Homo sapiens: one gene and its partner. Changing the gene in region 2 together with the main gene of any one other region gives a genetic interaction. Each region holds a gene or a part of one and is shown on either strand. Other genes may lie near its edges.

Evidence for each region. Genes that interact genetically often act in the same process or in processes that back each other up.
Region 1: changes in GOLPH3L (region 2) and CSK are lethal when combined (synthetic lethality), as found in Homo sapiens cells (one large-scale study listed by BioGRID).

What each region holds. Positions count from the first base shown.
Region 1 is NC_000015.10:74,791,951-74,795,643, forward strand, and holds part of CSK (tyrosine-protein kinase CSK), read left to right. Parts: intron 1-1,095; exon of another isoform or gene 1,096-1,298; intron 1,299-3,693. UniProt on the Homo sapiens protein: Non-receptor tyrosine-protein kinase that plays an important role in the regulation of cell growth, differentiation, migration and immune response.
Region 2 is NC_000001.11:150,690,529-150,694,221, reverse strand, and holds part of GOLPH3L (Golgi phosphoprotein 3-like), read left to right. Parts: intron 1-3,693. UniProt on the Homo sapiens protein: Phosphatidylinositol-4-phosphate-binding protein that may antagonize the action of GOLPH3 which is required for the process of vesicle budding at the Golgi and anterograde transport to the plasma membrane.

The DNA.
Region 1 (3,693 bases), on a different chromosome or scaffold from region 2:
GCCTGTGGGATGGGACTTGGAAGCTGTGTCTGTTCTGCTCCCCTGGCAACTTTTTCTTCAATGACTTGAGCTGGTGTTTTGCCATTTTCCATACTCTATCATGGGGAGTGTTCAGTATCGGCATCTAGAGATCTCCCCTGGCCCCATCACAGCTAGAGCTATGCTGTCCCCTTTCAGGGACATCTTGTAATTTATCCACCCAGCCCCCAACTGATGGACATAAAGGCTGTCTCCCCATCATCTCCTGCTACTACAGACAGCACTGCAGGGACTGTCCTGCTGTGTTTTTTTAAGGCATGGGTACTCCAGAAGCAGTTGCTCAGCTGCACCCCCAAGGTTGAGTGGAAGTCCCTCGGTAAAGGAGGAGGAGAGAGTGTGAAGGGAATGGCAAGGCGGGGAGGGAGACAGGGCACAGGTGTCCTGGCAACAGCAGATGGGAAACAGGTCTGGCTAAGGTACCAGAAGCCAACAAGTCCCAGAAAGGTCAAGTGACTTTCCCAAGGTCACACAGCAAGTTGATGGCAGAGCTGGGTACAGGACTCAGAGCATCTGACACCCAGGACGATGTTCCTGCACTGTTCCATAGAGTAGCCCGACTCTTAAGTTTAAATAACCCCAGGAAGGACCCCCTCTCTGTGCCTGACCCCCGCTGGGTTGTAGAGGCCTAAGTTTGCAGTAGCTCCTCCCAGCCACTCTGGCTGTCAGCCTCTGACCTGCAGTGGGAGGGTCTCACCTTCTGGAGATGTTTTAAGGAGGGGACCCCGGCCTAGGCACTAGCTGGGAAGCCACTGAGCCATCTTGTCTGCGGCCACTGACGTCAGTGCTTGGGCACAATGCCAGCCTGTTCCCGGGACCCCAGCACAAGGGCTACTGGGAGCCGGGTTTGGGGCAGGAAGTCAGCGTGAAGCACTGGTCCTGCCACATCCCAAGCCCCTTGTCCCCTAGCTCTGTGGGGGTGGGGTGACAGCTGCTATCGCTTTGGGGTTAACTATAGTCCCTTTGGGGTTAACTATAGTCCCATTGGTTATGGGACCTCAGTGTGATGTAGCCAGGCTGGATTCCCCCTTTTGTTTGTTCATTTATTCATTCATTCAGGGGTCTCATGACCCCACCAGGGAGGAGCCGTCCAAGAGAGTTAGCAGCTCCCACTTGCAAGATGTCTGTGGCAAGGCAGGCACTGTTCTGGTGCTGAGAGCTCAACTCCAGTCCTCACAGCAGCCCCCAGAGCCAAGGAGTATCACCAGTCCATTGCACAGATGGGGAAGCTGGGTTCTAGAGTCACAGCCAGCAGAGTAAAGGTGATGAGTTTAGCCCTCTTCCCTGTTTCCAGACCCTCTGAGGCCTTCAGAGCCCAGCTCCTTGAGGCAGCCCACCCCGACCGCTCCTAGGCTTACCCTTCCCTGAGCACCGCCCCTGTGCCCCTCATAGCTGCTTCTGCCTCCTCCCTCCTCCCTCCTCTCCCTTGCCCCTAGGCTAGTGTGGTCCCCATGGCAACTCCTGGGGCCTGTCCGGCAGGGAGGCACGGGGCTATGGGGAGGGCTGGCTCAGCAGCTCAGGAGTTTGACACCTGAGGGGGACAGAATGCTCACTCAAGGTGTGGCCCTAGGGACCCCCGCCTTGCCCCTGTGGGCCTCACTTGGGGTTCTCATCTGCAAAATGGGGATAATAATAGCTTCTCTGTCTCAGAGTTGTTAGAGGATGTGATGAGCCATAACGTGCCAAGGACAGGGCCTGGCACAGAATAAGTGCTCAGAAAACAGGGCCTGTTATTATTTTTATTATTATAATCAAGGCAGTGGGGAGGCGGCGGTGGCAGTAGCTGTAGGCCAGGAAGGGAGTGTTTGCAAACTGACAGCTGGAAGGGTGACTAACAGCGCAGCAGCCTCCGCGCCCCCCTGTGGTGGCAGGGAGTTTGGGGAGGAAGGGGGAGGCATGGGGATGTGGAATGCTAGCAGGGCCCCTATTCAGAAGGACCTAAAGGTTGGGGGCCCAGCCAGCCCTAGTGGGACCCTAATTCAAGCTCTGTCACCCCTAACTAGCTATGTGACTTCAGGCAAATTGTTCAACCAGTTGAGCCTCAGTTTCCGCTTCTGTGAAATGGGGGTAAGAGGGTTAGAAGAGCTCACAATCCTCCTTCCCTCCCCGCCACCCCCACCCCCACAGCTTACAGTCCACAGGAGGCAGGGGCAAGGGGTCCTCACCACCCCCACCCTCACAGCTTACAGTCCACAGGAGGCAGGGGCAAGGGGTCCCCGCCACCCCCACCCTCACAGCTTACAGTCCACAGGAGGCAGGGGCAAGGGGTCCCCGCCACCCCCACCCCCACAGCTTACAGTCCACAGGAGGCAGGGGTAAGGGGTCCCCGCCACCCCCACCCCCACAGCTTACAGTCCACAGGAGGCAGGGGCAAGGGGTCCCCGCCACCCCCACCCTCACAGCTTACAGTCCACAGGAGGCAGGGGCAAGGGATGGTTCCTGTACTTAGTGGTGACTGAGTCATGTGGATGGAGGCAGGTTTCAGGCTCATCCTCCTTGGGCCTCAGTGTCCCTGCCTAAACAGCAGGATTGATGGCCTGGCCTCTGGGGATAGAAAGGGCCCTGTATTCTGGGAGGAACGGAAGCTCTTTCATCCAGGGGATGGGGCAGGGGCGCACCAGACATTTCCAAGTTCAGGGTTTCATTCCAGCCCCTCCTCAGCCAGCTTGCAGGAGATACCTGTCCTCCCCTTCAGGGTAAGCAAGACTTAGAAGGGTTGAGTCACTCACCCCAAGTCGCACAGTCAACAGAGCCAGGTATTAAGCCCAGGCCTGACTATAGAGCCAGGTGTGCGGCCTGGAAGTGTTGGTTCTCCCTGGCCGTCTCCTCCCCAGCTCCTTCTGCTCTCCATGATCACATGCCCCCCTGCTGAGGCCCCATCGCCCTTGGAGTCAAACCCTGGTTCCTCACATTGGCAGTGGAAGTCCCCCTGCTGCCTGGCAGAGTTTATGCCAGGCCCACTTGAAACCATCCCCTACAGTGTCCCCTGAGCAGCGGTGCTCAAGGTGGACTCTGGAAGTGTGTGGGGTCCTAGAGCCCCAGATGGGCAGGGTCTGCCTTCCCGCTTCCCTCACCATCGGCTTCCACCTGGGCCAGTTTCTCATACTATGCCAGTCCCCTGCCTGACACCTTTGCTCAGACTGCTGCATCAACCTGGGGTGCCTTCCCTGGCCCGCCCTCTGCCTGTGTAAGCCCTGCAATCTTCAGGGCTCAGCCCCAGAGCTCCCTCCTCCAGGGAGCCTGTCTGAGCTCTGCAGTCCGTGCCTACTTCACACCCCCAGCACTTTGCACTAAAATGTCTTCTCCCGCGCCACTGCACTCCAGCCTGGGCAACAGAGCAAGACTCCGTCGCAATAATAACAATAATAATAAAATAAAATGTCTCCTTCCACTGGGGTAGGTAGCAATATTTGTGACTGTCAGCCTAGCCCCCAGACCTCATCCACTGTATCAAAGAGCCCAGCAAAGAGGCTCATGGAGGAGTTTCTCTTCTAACACACTGTGACCACGAAGATGCCACTGGCCCTTTCTCACCCTCAGTTTCCTCACCCGTAGAAAGGAAACAGTAGTTCCAGCCCCTCTGCTTCCTGAGACAGGTCCAAGGGGGCTCTGGGCTGGGATTACAAAGTATGTGTGTGCAGACGGGTGGGTTGCTGC
Region 2 (3,693 bases):
TCTTATAGCAGAAATAATTTTTTATTTTCCTCTGTGCATCTTTATAAGGCAAATATCAACAGTTGGATTACGCGGTGGCTCACGCCTGTAATCCCAGCACTTTGGGGAGCCGAGGTGAGTGAATCACTTGAGGCCAGGAGTTCAAGACTAGCCTGGCCAACATGGTGAAACCCCGTCTCTACTAAAAATAAAAAATTAGCCATGTGTGGCGGCGGGTGCCTGTAATCCCAGGTACTCGGGAGGCTGAGGCAGGAGAATCACTTGAACCTGGGAGGCGGAGGTTGCAATGAGCCAAGATTGCACCACTGCACTCCAGCCTGGATGACAGAGTGAGACCCTGCCTCAAAAAAAAAAAAAAAAAAAAAAAAAAAAAATATATATATATATATATATATATATATACACACACACACACACACACACATACATAAACAATTGAGGATTATTTTAATTTTTGAAAATTTTTAAAAATAATTTTAGCTTTTCTCTTTTTTCCCTAAATGTCTCCTTATTTAATGGAACATTTATTTTATAGTACAGTTAGTCTTAAGGTCCTGAGTCTTGTGATATAACCAGAAATTTCCCTGGCTTCTCTACTAGTATACATCATCATCCTTCATTTGTAACTTTTTGCTGTGTTTTCTCATCACACTATTCCCTCATGAAGAAGTTACGAAGGTAACATTTTAAACAATCTGCTTTCTTTCCAGGAAAGCCTTAAATAACCGCCCCCCCTCGCCCACCGCCTGCAAGAAAAGAAAGAGGTATATTTATTACTGGCCTCAGTTTTGAAAACATACAAAATTAGAATGTTATTTTAGATTTTAAAAGTACTAAATTTGGCTTTGATAATTATCCTTAGCTAGAAGTGAATTGGCTGCATACAAGTAGTAACAGCTCTTCTTTTCTACATAATTCTTCGACTTGGAAATACCATTGTTGTTTAGATTTTGCCTTTCATTTATTTACTATTTTCCTTTTTACTTTTTTTCTTGTTAAATTACCAACTTGAACAAAATTTACAGACCAGTTATAGTCTGTGTATTGTTAAAACTAATATTAGAGACATGCTTATGTGTACCTGGCCAAGATGTAGGTATATCAGAAATTCTTGCCCGGAAATATATTTTCCTGTTTGCTGAGAAGTTGATGAGCCTTCAGTTTTATAAAAGGCAAATAAACGAAAAGGCAAAACCAGCTCTCCAAGAGAATGTCAGAATAGGACTGAAGATTAGGTGATATAAATACTCTTTTGAGACGTTTACACATTACCTAGGAAACAGTCACTGACTGTATAAAAAGAGGATATAGAACTAAAAGCTATTTGGTTTGTTTTAGCTTTGAATAGGAATGATTAATTTCCTGCTGACCTTATGCACTGGAATTTTTGCTTTTGGGCTTGTCTTCATGTGTTTATAATGGTTAATATAAATTTTAGGAAATAGAATAAAAAATAAAGCAGCTCATTAAGAGCTATGGCCATGGTGAGTACTTAACATATTGGTGAGATACTGTACAAAATAAGCAGATGGCTGGATGCAATGGCTAATTCCTGTAATCCTAACACTTGGGAGGCCAAGGTAAGAGGATTGCTTGGGCCCAGGAGTTCAAGACCAGCCTGGGCAACATGGTGAGACACCATCTCTACAAAAAATTTAAAACAAAAAAATTAGCTGGACATGGTGGCACATGCCTGTAGTCCTAGCTACTCAGGAGGCTGAGTCAAGAGGATGGCTTAAGCCTCGGAGGTCGAGGCTTCAGTGAACCAGGATTGTGTCACTGCACTCCAGCCTGAACAACAGAGCAAGGCCTCAAAAAATAATAAATAATAGCACATAACAATTAACCACCTTTTGAATTGCTCTAATTTTATTTTTGAGGATAGTTAACAAATATTTAGCTTTCATTTGGCTCAGGAAGAATAAAAGACAATAAATCCTTAGGTGTAAATGAATAGAAGAGGTCAAACTTTGTGATTTATTTAAATAGTAGTAGTTACAAAAGGCCAGTTACATAACTATCTCTAAAAATATTAAATTGATTCCCAACTGTACTTATTTTTTTCTTATCTCTCAAACTATCAATAGATTCATTTAATCAATATTTAATGTGATTGAGGACACCCATTATGTGCTTAGGATTATGCTAAATATTAATACTAAGGTAAATATAAAATAGTATAGTATATGGTCCCTGCCTTCAAGAAACTTGCATTCTAGCTGGAGAGACAAAAAGATACATACTTTTTAAAAGTTAAGTAACCCGAAGGTCCATCAACAGCAGAATGGATAAAAATGAATCATCAAAAAAAAAAAAGAGTCATCCATTTGTTTAAATGAGTATAAATATGTTTTCTATACAGAATGAAAATGAACATTGTTATACAACATGTATATTTCTCACATTATGTTCAATAAAAAAAGCCAAACACAAAAATATACATACTGTATGATTCCATTTATATGAAACTCAAAAAACTATTGTATTTGAGGTTGCATATTTAGGTGGTACAATTATAAACAAAATCAAGCCAGGAATTACTATAGTTTTTAGAATAGTGATTATCTTTTTGTAAGGGATAGGGGAAGGAAAAGGGTGTTAGTAATTAGGAAGGAAAATGGAGAGGATTTCTAGATAGTAACAATTTTCTGTTTCTGGACCTAGAGGAAGTTTCATAGTTTTGTTTTTGTTTTTGTTTTTGTTTTTAAGACAGAGTCTTGCTCTGTCACCCAGGTTGGAGTATAGTGGCACCATCTTGGCTCACTGCAACCTGCGCCTCCCGAGTTCAAGCAATTCTCCTGTCTCAATCTCCTGAGTAGCTGGGATTACAGGCACCCGCCACCATGCCTGGCTAATTTTTGTATTTTTAGTAGAGATGGGGTTTCACCATATTGGTCAGGCTGGTCTTGAACTCCTGACCTCTCAGGCGACCCACCCAACTTGGCCTCCCAAAGTGCTGGGATTATAGGTGTGGCCTCCCAAAGTGCTGGGATTACAGGCGTAAACTACTGCTCCCGGCCTTTTTTATTTATTTATTTATTTTTGATACGGAGTCTTGCTCTGTCCCTCCTGGCTAATTTTTGTATTCTTAGTAGGGAAGGGTTTTCAGCATGTTAGCCAGGCTAGTCTTGAACTCCTGATCTCAAGTGATCCACCTGCCTTGGCCTCCCAAAGTGCTGGGATTACAAGCGTGAGCCACTGCACCTGGGCCATAGATCTTCACTTTGGAATAATTAAGCTTTTTACTTTGTTTTGTTTATTCTTCTGTGTGTACATTATATTTCACAATGCAAAATATTTTTTTTAAAGTAAACAACAATAAAAAGCAAGTTTTTGCATGTTAGAATGAGCCAAGGGAGTTAGAGAGAGGAGAAACCATCATGAGATAGAGTAATCCGGGGAAGAATAGAAAAAGGCAGTAAAACAAGCCATGCCTTTAAAAATGGGAGGATTAACATGAATGGAGAAAAGGAAACACGTTCTGGATGAGGGAACCTGAGTGAGCAAAGGTATCATGAGCTTGATGAGTTTGGGAGATAACTGTGAGTAGGCCAGTATGACTGAAGTAGGTGGAGAACAATGGGATTCAAAATCAGTAAATTCGATTTGGACCAGATTATAGATTTTGTTACCAGGCAGAGACTTTTAGACTCTTTCCTTTAGGGAAAAGAGAATCAGCCTAATGAAAACAGC